Regions from separate parts of the Homo sapiens genome. Here region 1 is linked to region 2. Evidence: fine-mapped expression QTL. A gene starts in region 2. The other region holds a variant in brackets. All regions are shown on one strand. Distances are between the middles of the regions. Region 1 overlaps SLC7A6 (solute carrier family 7 member 6). Region 2 holds the start of SLC7A6 (solute carrier family 7 member 6).

What was found. PIP is the estimated chance that this variant, and not a neighbour inherited with it, causes the effect. A credible set is the group of variants that fine-mapping cannot tell apart.
Region 1: its variant is the best candidate, but not a certain one, in a credible set for the expression of SLC7A6 in whole blood (INTERVAL, PIP 0.88).

Annotation. Positions count from the first base shown.
Region 1 is chr16:68,293,336-68,298,703 of GRCh38, reverse strand. SLC7A6 (solute carrier family 7 member 6) reads right to left here. Exons shown (of 11, transcript NM_003983.6): 8 at 3,903-3,999; 9 at 2,191-2,340; 10 at 1,894-2,077; 11 at 1-1,470. The coding sequence ends at 1,376. It overlaps SLC7A6OS (solute carrier family 7 member 6 opposite strand), which reads left to right. Exons shown (of 5, transcript NM_032178.3): 5 at 1-670. Among named protein-coding and RNA genes, the nearest start is that of SLC7A6OS, 15 kb to the left of the region's middle. RefSeq lists a silencer at 424-718. The variant C/T (reference allele first, on the strand shown) is at 2,610.
Region 2 is chr16:68,261,745-68,267,112 of GRCh38, reverse strand. It overlaps SLC7A6 (solute carrier family 7 member 6), which reads right to left and starts at 2,587. Exons shown (of 11, transcript NM_003983.6): 1 at 2,537-2,587; 2 at 392-520. It overlaps LOC124903704 (a long non-coding RNA gene), which reads left to right and starts at 2,656. Exons shown (of 3, transcript XR_007065096.1): 1 at 2,656-2,745; 2 at 3,699-3,926; 3 at 4,417-4,452. RefSeq lists an enhancer at 850-2,049 and a silencer at 2,422-2,701.

The DNA of each region.
Region 1 (5,368 bases), 32 kb before region 2:
CACTTGTGCAGCCTGCTGAAGAGCCGGACTCAGGTTGAAGCAGCTTTCCTCCCAGTCTTCACTGATCTCCACAGGGAGAAAACAGAAGTCCCCACAAGTACCAAGCTCTTCCTGAGACTGCAGCCACCACACCTCGGGGAAGGGGAGGCTGGCAGGAGAGGAGTACACTGTCCCGGTGACCCACACCAAGGTGGCTCCAAGTGTAAACAAAGCCTGGTGCCAGGGACAGAAGAGGATGCAGCCTGATGTGAGGTTTTCAGAAAAGTGAAATGACCTAGCACCAGGTTGGGATTGCTTGGGTCTGCACAGCAGTCCCTCACACTGCCCTTACAGAGAGGAACAGGTTATTTGATGACTTGGGCCCATGAGATGTTCTCCAAGCCATTGACAGCTGAGAGAATTCAGGTGATCCACCTGAATATCAGAAGTTTCAGCCCTCTTAGAGTTCGTAACAGAAACCCAGAGATTTACTGTCAGCTAGAACAAAGATGTAAGGTCTCAAGTAAAATAAAGGATTGTCCTTCAAAACAGCAATATTAACAGACTTCTGACTCAGGAATTTGTTCATCTGTCCTTGCTGGACCTGAGCCAAGTGCTTGTAACGTGATCTATGATCTATCTGTATGCTAAAGTGTAACAGGTACGTGAGTAAAAAAATCTTTAAGGTTCATTGTTGCAGGTAAGACTCAATAGAAATTGTGCTAAACAGCATAAAACCTGTGGTCAGAGTCTGACCCAATACCACAGACATTTCTGAGCCCAAAGGGACTCAGTTTTGGGTACTTTGATTTTTAAATACAATCAGCCTATTGCATCCTGTAGATGAAGAGACACGCATGCTTCGTTAGAACTGGTGTTCTGGACTAAATATCAATAAATAAGGGAATATAACTCTCTCCCCAGGGAAGAATTTTGAGCCAGAGGAAGAAATGGTAGCATTTCAGGCCTTTAAAGTCAGGTGTTGTACCTGGTCAGAGAAAAACTTCCCATAAAGCAGCCCCTCTATAGGGACTCCTAGTTCAAATACCAAATTCAGAAGCCACCAGCCCTATCAACCTAGCATTCCCTCTTCCCCACTGCACTTTACCAAGTAAATATCTGTAAGAGCTGCATCTACCTATCAGGAGTAAAACTAAATGACCATTCCCCCCGTTCCCCAATCTTCCCCCCACCCTCTGAAGCCCCCACCTTGAGGTTGGCCCAGATCCTGAGTCTCCTATAGCTTACCAATAAGAGTGAGCACTGGCCCTGAGCCCCACTATATGATTGGGTCAAAAGGCTCCTTTAATTCAGGAGAGTTGGGCCCACAGAGTCTTGTTATCAGGATTTTGCTGGTTGGCCTGCCTTCCAGGCCTCAGAAAGCCACCTCTGACCTCTAGTCAGTTTTCCTCTCATCCTTTTTTTCTTCGGCTACATCAAGCTCAGTCAGGACACAAAAGCAAAGCTGCTGGGTGCCTCTGGTGATAGCAGCTAAATGAAAATAGAGCAAGCACAGGGTTTAGTAAACATCTAGCTACAGCCCTAACCTGAACAAGGCTGACTAGTAACATCTATGGCTCCCTCGCCACCTGCCCCTTAAGTACCCTATATCAGGCTTTGCCCCTGTCTCCCAACAAGCCTCATCATCCTCTGTCCCATGCCCAACCAGAGTCTGATGCACAACTCATCTTCCCAGGTGATTTGTGTTGTCAGGAGGTAATGTTTTAGCCCCAAAATAGGACACTAAAATTAGAACTAAAGTGATCATGTCAAAATCAAAAGGGAAGTCGTGGACAGCTGGGTCACATGGCCTCCAGCAAATTCTGAGTATGGGGAAGCTGTTAGCCACCCCCCACCTCTGCATGCGCATGCACACATAGCCGCCAGTGAGTAATGGGGCACAGAGAAGCTCACCCAGGACATTCCGAATAAACAATGGCCTCCGGGACTCTGGCAGGTAAACACCCATGAAGTAGAAAGGGACTCCAGAAAGGGCAATCCCGATGCCAATGAGGGAATTAATGGTGTCAGTGAAGAGGGGCACTATCACCAGAAACACGGAGCATATGCAGAACACGATGGGGAAAAACACGCTCAGCTGAAATAGAGGGGGTGAGAGATTAAGTAACGTGGGAAGAGGAAACAGCTCGTGGGCAAGAAGCCACCTTAGGGAGATGGCCCACCCCTCCTAGTCTGGCCAGAGCTGCTGACCTTGAGAGGCCGGGGCCGCTTGGGCTCCTTCCAGCGGAGGTAGAGCTGTCCAACAACAGACAGGCCCACGAAGAACCAGTAGCTGAAGCTGAAGTAGTTGATAAGCTGGAAAACATCCTCCACGATGAGGTAGATGAGTGCCATGGTGCACTGTGGGAAAGGGGTGGGGAGACAGGTGAGCATCGTCACCACCTGCGCCCCCAGGAGACTCCCCCACCCAGCAGTCAGTACTAGATCTGATGCCACTTCACCAGATTACCTCTGGCTCTTTTCATTGACCCCTTGGCATCAGATAGGTCCATTCCTTGATGTACCCTGAGGTACATTAACCCTCAGGGTAGCATCTTTCCCCCTTCTGTTGCAGCCCTTCCTCCACTCAATGCCTCCCCCTTGTTGCAAGCACTTTAGAAAAAGGCAGA[C/T]GCTGAGGCCCTCCTCACTTCAGTGCAGCAACCTTAACATGGATTACACGGTGTCCTAGAGAGGGGTTAGACCTGGGTCCCGACTGCCTGGCATACAAATGGGGGAAACGCCTTCAGAACCATCTCACTGTCCTCAGGCCTGAGAAATGCTAACTAGCAATTGGATCCCTACCCATCTGGACTAAATAATGTCAATAAATAATGGAATCTAACTCTCTCCCCATGGAAGAATTTTGAGCCAGAGGGAGAAATTGTAGCATTTCAGGCCTCTGAAGTCAGGTGTTGGACCTGGAAACTAGCAAAATGGATCCATCCAGACATAAGACAGCATTAGCTTCTGGAACAAAAGAATCCTAGAAGGCAAGGATTAGGGCCTAGGGTCCTGGGACAAGGTCAAATGTGTTTAAACTTCAATAATCTTTTCATTACAAATTATCAACAAAGGATTTAAAACCAAATAGCTCATTCTGTGGAGATAAGGGAGAACCCTGTATTAAGAAGAGAAGGCTGGGCGTGGTGGCTTGTGCCTATAATCCCAGCACTTTGGGAGACTGAAGTGGCAGCTCACTGGAGCCCAGGAGCTCAAGACCAGCCTGGGCAACATAGTGAGACCTCATCTCTACAAAAAATAAATTAGCCAGGCCTGGTGGTGTGTGCCTATAGTCAGATAACCTCCTAAATTTATAAATTCAATGCTGGCCCTGTCAAAATATCAAGAGAATTTTTCTCTTACTTTGATGAAATGATAGAAAAGTTCATCAAGACAAATAAACGAATATGAGAATTGCTAGGAAAATTCCAAGGGCGGGGGGACTAAAGAAGTACCCTTGGTCCCTCTTTAGTTTTCAGATAGTCAGTATAAAGCTAAACTAAGGAGACTTGGTGCTGATGGGGAGGATTAGTTGAGATGGCACATTTAAGGGGCATACAATAATAATTGGCACATATTAAGGACCCTAAAAAAATTAGCTATTAATTTTCTGTGATAAAAGTTTGAAAACTGTGGGAAAATGGATTGTTGAGTGAGCGATATTGGTATAGCTGGCTGCCATTCGAGAAAAAATTAAGTGAATCCCCACCTTTCTCAATACTATGCTATAATATAAATTCCAGATTAATCCAAAATTAAACGTAATAAAACCATAAAAGAATTAAATGACAACAAAAAATGAACTGTTTTTCACATCTTAGAGTAAGGCCTTTCTCAGGGTCCCTCTTATTTAACAACTTAGCACAAATCAGAAGGAGCAATGCACAGATCCACCTGAGCCCCGTGGTCCCAGCAAAGCTTACATTGAACAGTAAAGCAGGGATAGGTGTAAAACGCTCAATGTGGATCATGGACAGAAGGTCCGGTAGGTGGCCCTCCCGGGAGCCCACGAAGAACAACCTAGAAGGATGAGAAATGTGTCAGCAGGATCCTTTACTCCTTTTACTCAGCCATACTCACTCCTCACTTGGACAAACTCAGCTCAGAGCCCCCGAGGAAAGCAGGATGCAGCCTCCCAGGAGCATCCCAGGTCCTTAGTGCATCACCAGTCCAACCTCCCTGCTCCCCCCTTCCCTACAGATTTTCCCTCCCTCTTCATCCCCGGGCACCTCACCACTACCCAGATGCCCCACCCACCATCACCCAGATACCCCCTCTTCTCTCAGCCACAGATACCTCACCAACATCCAACAGATGCCTCACCCTGCTGTCACCCACTAACAGACTCACCCAATCCATGCCAGATTCATAGCTAACATAATAGCTTTTAAAGGGCAGCCAGATTTCTGTTCATGCCCTCCATATATTTTCCCTGAGCTGATGTAAGGCAAGACTGAGGGTCAGAGAGACAACCCAGGCTTCCTTTCTACACCTAAAGAGCTCTACCGACTGGGAAAAAGACTGGCACAGCGTCCAGGCATGGTGGCTCATGCCTATAATCCCAGCACTTTCGGAAGCCGAGGCAGGTGGATCACCTGAGGTCGGGAGTTTGAGACCAGCCTGACCAACATGGATAAACCCTGTCTCTACTAATACAAAATAAGCCGGGCGCGGTAGCACATGCCTGTAATCCCAGCTACTCGGGAGGCTGAGGCAGGAGAATCACTTGAATCCAGGAGGCGGAGGTTGCAGTGAGCCGAGATCGCACCATTGCACTCCAGCCTGGGCAACAAGAGTAAAACTCCATCTCAAAAACAAACAAAAAAAGACTGGCACAGAAATGAACTGTCCCCAGCATGGTCAGCATCACCTTGGAGTACACGACACTCACTCGCTAGGCTTGAGGCTTGTGCCAAAATGCTTTGCAAGAGGAGAGATGCAAAGAAGAGTTTCCAGAAGCAAGTCGGTAGGTGGAAAAAACGAGCATGTGCATAGGCAAAATGTGTGGAGGTATGAAAGAGCGTGGCCTCTTTGGAGGTTGATGTAGAATGCCTAGAGCCCCAGGACAAGCTGTGTGAGAAGAGGGTGCTGGGAAGAACCTGCATACAAGGCCACACTGTGGAGTCTGAACAAACACAGTCAGCTGTGGCTTTGAGGTAAGGGCCTGACGGGATTTGACACCAGACTGGAGAGCAAACTAGAGCAGGGGGAGGCTAGGGTGTCAGGGAAAGGCTAGAAAAGAAGTCCATCTATCACAACTAGGCTGAGCAGAGGGAAGGTGACACTACTTTTTTTATTTTTGAGATGGAGTCTCGCTCTGTAGCCCAGGCTGGAGTTCAATGGCGCGATCTCGGCTCACTGCAACCTCCGCCTCCTGGGTTCAGGCAAT
Region 2 (5,368 bases):
AAATACAATAATTAGCTGGGCATGGTGGCGGGCGCCTGTAATCCCAGCTACTTGGGAGGCTGAGGCAGGAGAATCGCTTGAATCCAGGAGGCAGAGGTTGCAGTGAGCAGAGATTGCGCCACCACACCCCAGCCTGGGTGACAGAGTGAGACACTGTCTCCAAAAAAAAAGAAAAAACCCACCACAATTACTCTTTATAAAGAATTGTAATATAAATAAATGTATAATTTATTTTTATAATAAATTACAGTGTTATTTAATATGTAATACTAAAGAGTTGTTAATTATGTGTAAGCCATTCTGTTTACTAGTATTGTATTCACACTGTATACAAGTAAAAACTCTTTGTAAATCACACAAACAAAAGAAAAGACAGCGCAACAATATTCACCTGTCAAGAAATACGCGAACATCACACTTTCATAAGCCACCTCCTCATAAATGGGTCCAGTACTGAGAAGGAAATGAAGTCCCCTGCAGCAAGGCCTAATTCCACTTGTCTGCCTCGGCCACATAAACTCTGCAACAAAGAGTGGGAGGGAACTGATCAAAAAATGAACTCTTTTAACCTGAGAAAGCTGATTTAAATATATATATATATGTAATTATTTTTAATTAACCAAGAAAGCAGCAGAATGATATTTCCTTGTAAAATCTAAATTTTACATGCCCGGCAGGGGCAGTCCTAATTACTAGCAGGTTCCATGACACCCACAGGGTGGGTATAACTGAAGTAGCCAGCCCAAACCTGTCAGAGAACTGGCCTTGTCACATTAAATCATGTAAGTCTAGGCAGCTCTGGGGCCCCAGGTCCCGTGGGCACCGTTTACATAACTTTTTTTCTTTTTTTTTGGAGATGGAGTCTCGCTCTGTTGCCCAGGCTAGAGTGCAATGGCGCAATCTTGGCTCACTGCAACCTCCGCCTCCCGGGTTCAAGCCATTCTCCTGCCTCAGCCTCCCGAGTAGGTGGGACTACAGGTGCCCACCACCACACCTGGCTCAATTTTTGTATTTTTAGTAGAGACGGGATTTCACCATGTTAGCCAGGATGGTCTCGATCTCCTGACCCCGTGATCCGCCTGCCTCGGCCTCCCAAAGTGCTGGGATTACAGGACTGAGCCACCGCGCCCGGCCTGCATAACTTTTTTAGAAACTAATATACATCCAAGAAATTACAGCAGGAAGCACAAAGGTCAGGAAATTTCTTCTACTAAGAAGTTCCAGGGAGATGGGGATCATAAAACCGGTATATGCAATAAAAATACATCCACGGCCAAATAGGGAAGGAGGACAAGGAGAGGAAGAGAGGAGAAAATCAGGCTGGTGGTTTTCCACACACTTGCCAGGAAAATAAACTCCAGTGTAACGACTTGAATAACGATCTGAGATCAAAGTTGGGAAGCAAAAGCCGTCTGCGCAGCACACATGGGACCTGAGTAATGCAGGCAGCCTGGGCAGGTCCCCAAAAGGCCTCACCGCCACCAAAAAGAGGTGGAACTGATATAAGGAAGTACTCACAGCCTTTCAAGTCTGCTCCTCCCAGATCTGAAATCTGGGAGCAGTTCTGAGAGACAAGCCCCGGATGGCTGGGCACTGAACAGCCGCCCTGCGAGATGAGCTGCCCTGGCTTTTTCCCCTATCAAGGGCAGAGACTGAATTCTTTTTAACTGTGTCACCAAGCCCAGGGCATACAAGAGGTACTCAAAAACGTGTTCGCCGACACCCTGATTCCTATTTATACTGACCATTACACAACATGTTTGCTTAGAGCCCAGCAAAGAATTTTCAGAATGTTTCACGTCTATCTCCCCACATTCAGGAGAGATAGTCACACAAGATGACAGGCTATAGGGACGCTCAAAAGAGCCATAATCACCAGGGGCACGCGGGTTCCCCAGCGCCAGCAGCCCAACGCTCCAGGCTCCAGCACGCCACAAAACCTTGCGGCATTCTCTAAAGTAAAAGGACTGATTTTAAAATGATAATCGTCATTCTTGCGACAGCCCCAGGAAGCCTGGCTCCTGAGGTCCTGAGCCCGCGTCTTTCTTTGCCCCACCGCGGCCGCCACACAGCACAGGTTCTCCGTCCTGCAGTCGGAGGCGCAGTCACAGCCCCACTCAGGGTCACCGTCGCACAGTCTCACGCTCGCGGCGCGGCCCGCGCACTCAGCGTCCCGGTCACCCTCGCACCTGGGGTTTCCCTCTCCACACACACCCCCGGTCTCCCTCACACTCGCCGCGTCGCCAGCACACCCCAAGACTGGCTCCCTCGCGGTCACCATCAGCCTCCGGGGCTCGCACCCATACAGCGTTTCTCCCACACTCGGCCCTCACGCTCGAGGTCCCTCTCTCCTCGTGGCGCCCCCCCTCACCCGCAGCGCCTCTCGCGCGGCCCCGATCGGCCAGCCCCGCGCTGTTTCTGGGCCGCATCCCGCTCCCGACGGCGGCAGCGAAGACCCACAGGGTTCGGCTCCCACAGAACGCGGCCCAGCCCCGGCCCCGCTCCCGGCGCGCCCGCCCATGGCCCAGCCCGTTACCTCCCAGTGGCCCGGCGCCGCCAGGATGCTCGGTCGCGCCGCCGCCGCCGCGGCAGCTCAGGCCCCGCCCCGCCACGTCACCCGCCGCCGGATCGCGACAGCGCGCGCCGCGTCGGGACACAGTTCCGTGCGGGGCCAGCTGGCGGCGGCGCTTCCGGGCCCCCGTGGCCGCCACGGCCTGGCCGGTACGGGGTCCGCCGGCCCAGAACGTGAGCGTGGACGCCAGACAGCCCCCAGCTGCCTCGTCAGGGCTCGAGCAGCCCGTGAACTGGGCCCGGCCACGCTCGCCGCCCTGGAGTTAGATGGGGCCTCCGAGGGCGTCCACAGCGGACATTCCCGCGGGGAGCTCTCATCGGCCCCCGCACCCCGTTCCTATCTCGCACTTGACCTGGGCCCGACGCCCAGGGCGCCCCCTACAGCTCACACAGGGATCCAAACGGCCTCCGCCGCCGGGCCACTGCCACTCGCAGTCTAGGAACCCCAGGAAGACACACACTCTGGGGACTTGTCCAAACACACGCACAGCTCAGACTCGTAGCCCTTGAGGCCCCCGCACCCACAAAGAAACTGCAGGCTCCCTTTGCCAACCCCAGGCCTCCCTGGGGCTCTGTCCTCATCTTCCCAAGAGGGCTGCCACCCCTCTTGGGGGAGCTGCACCTCCTGCCCCCCCTCTTGGGGGAGCTGCACCTCCTGCCCCCTTCCCCTCCCTCTGTTTGCTCCTCCATCTTTCTCTCGAGTTCCTTTTCCTCTGGTGGCTCTGGGGCTCTCTGTCTAGAGCCTCCTGACCTCATGGGCGCCTGAGCCCTCCTCCGAAATTTCCTGTCCACACCTCAAGCACTGACTTTCTCCAGGGCCCTGGAATCTTTTCCCCCAGCCTTATGACCACAAGTACACGTCCTCTGGTTCCAGACCATACCCAAGACCCTGCTCCCTGCCACCCAGTGACAGGGACCCAGCCAGAGATGGGTAGCACCTCAGACCCTTCCTCCCCACTCCTCCCACGGCCTATACCTCGTTTTCTTCTCCCCAGCCACAACGGCTTCTCAATCCCTATCCTGCTCCCCTTACCCCATCTCCACAGAGTAGGGGATGCTCCTAGAATACAGATTGCGATGACTTTGTATCTCCCCTGCCTAAAACCCTTCCATTCTCCTCTCTGCAGGCCTGGGATGACAATACTTGAGGAATCCTCGCTGGTGCTGCCCTCCTGCCCTCTGCTTGGAACCCCTCCCCTAAGTGTCAGTGAGTGGACGTATATATTTGGATCAATCGAGTTGCACCCTTTGCCTCCCAGATCAGTTCCTCCGGCCTCCCTGGCTGAGCAGAAGGACAGCTCTGGACACTTGTGTCAGCACCCAGCCCACGTGTCCCTGCCACAGCTTCATATAAGGTATGCCGGCTCAGCCGGGCCTGGTGGCTCACGCCTGTAATCCTACAACTTTGGGAGGCTGAGGCAGGCAGATCACCTTGAGGTCAGGAGTTCGAGACCAGCCTGACCAACATGGAGAAACCCCGTCTCTACTAAAAATACAAAATTAGCCGAGTGTGGTGGCACATGCCTGTAATCGCAGCTACTCAGGAGGCTGAGGCAGGAGAATCGCTTTAACCCAGGAGGCAGAGGTTGCAGTAAGCCGAGATCGCGCCATTGCACTCCAGCCTGGGCAATAAGAGCGAAAGTCTATCTCAAAAAAAAAAAAAAAAAAACACCATATGCCAGCTCCGTCTGGCTTTGCAGTCTCATACCCAGTTACGTAGCCCATCAGCTGAAAGCCCAATGTACACCACACCCTGAATCAGATGTTCTCCAACACCATCAGTGTTCCTCAGGACCACCCTGCAGGATACATTTATTTGTAACCATTCTTTTCTTTTGCTTTTAGAGATCTTGCTGTTGCCCAGGCTGGAGTGCAATGGCTATTCACAGGTGTGATCATAGCTCACTGCAGCCTCGAACTCCTGGTTTCAAGCGATCTTCCTGCCTCAGCTTCCTACTTGGGACTACAGATTTATTTCATCTTTTTTTTTTTTTTTGAGATGTATCTCGCTCTGTCTTGCTCAGGCTGGAGTGCAGTGGTGCCATCTTGGCTCACTGCAGCCTCCGCCTCCCAGGTTCCAGTGATTCTCCTGTCTCGGCCTCCAGAGTAGCTAGGACCACAAGGCATGTGCCACCACACCTGACTAATTTTGTATTTTTAGTAGATATGGGGTTTCACCATGTTGGCCAGGCTGGTCTTGAACTCCTGACCTCATGTGATCCACCCTCCTTGGCCTCCCAAAGTGCTGGGCTCACAGGCGTGAACCATGGCGCCCGGCCTATTTCACCTTTAGAGATAAAGTCTTGCCCAGGCTGGTCTCAAACTCCTGGGCTCAAGCGATCCTCCCACCTTAGCCTCCTGAGTAGGTGGAACTATAAGCGTGAGCCAATGCACCCAGATGTCCCCATTCTTTGGATGAGGAAACTGAGGGTCAGGAGGCTCCCCAGACAACTTGGCTGGAGCTAGTAGAGCTGAGATTTGAACCCTAGTATGCTGATCCTTAAGCCTCCTCTGATTCCATGCCCTTTCTCTCTGCAGCTATGAAACTGAGGGTGATGGTGAAGCTAAAATGGGTCAGGGATGAGTGGGGTGCCATGAGTAGGGGGGTGTCAGGGCCAAGCAGGGAGTCAGGTTGGGCAGGGCCTGGGGTGAAGCTCCCTTTCATGTTGTCATCCTTTTACTGAGGCCAGAGCTGCAGCTGGACCCCAGTATTTTTACCACAGGCATTTTTACCCCCACTCTGGGTCACCTCGTCCTTCCAGGTTTGGCTAACAGGTGGTTCAGTGAGAGGGTTCAG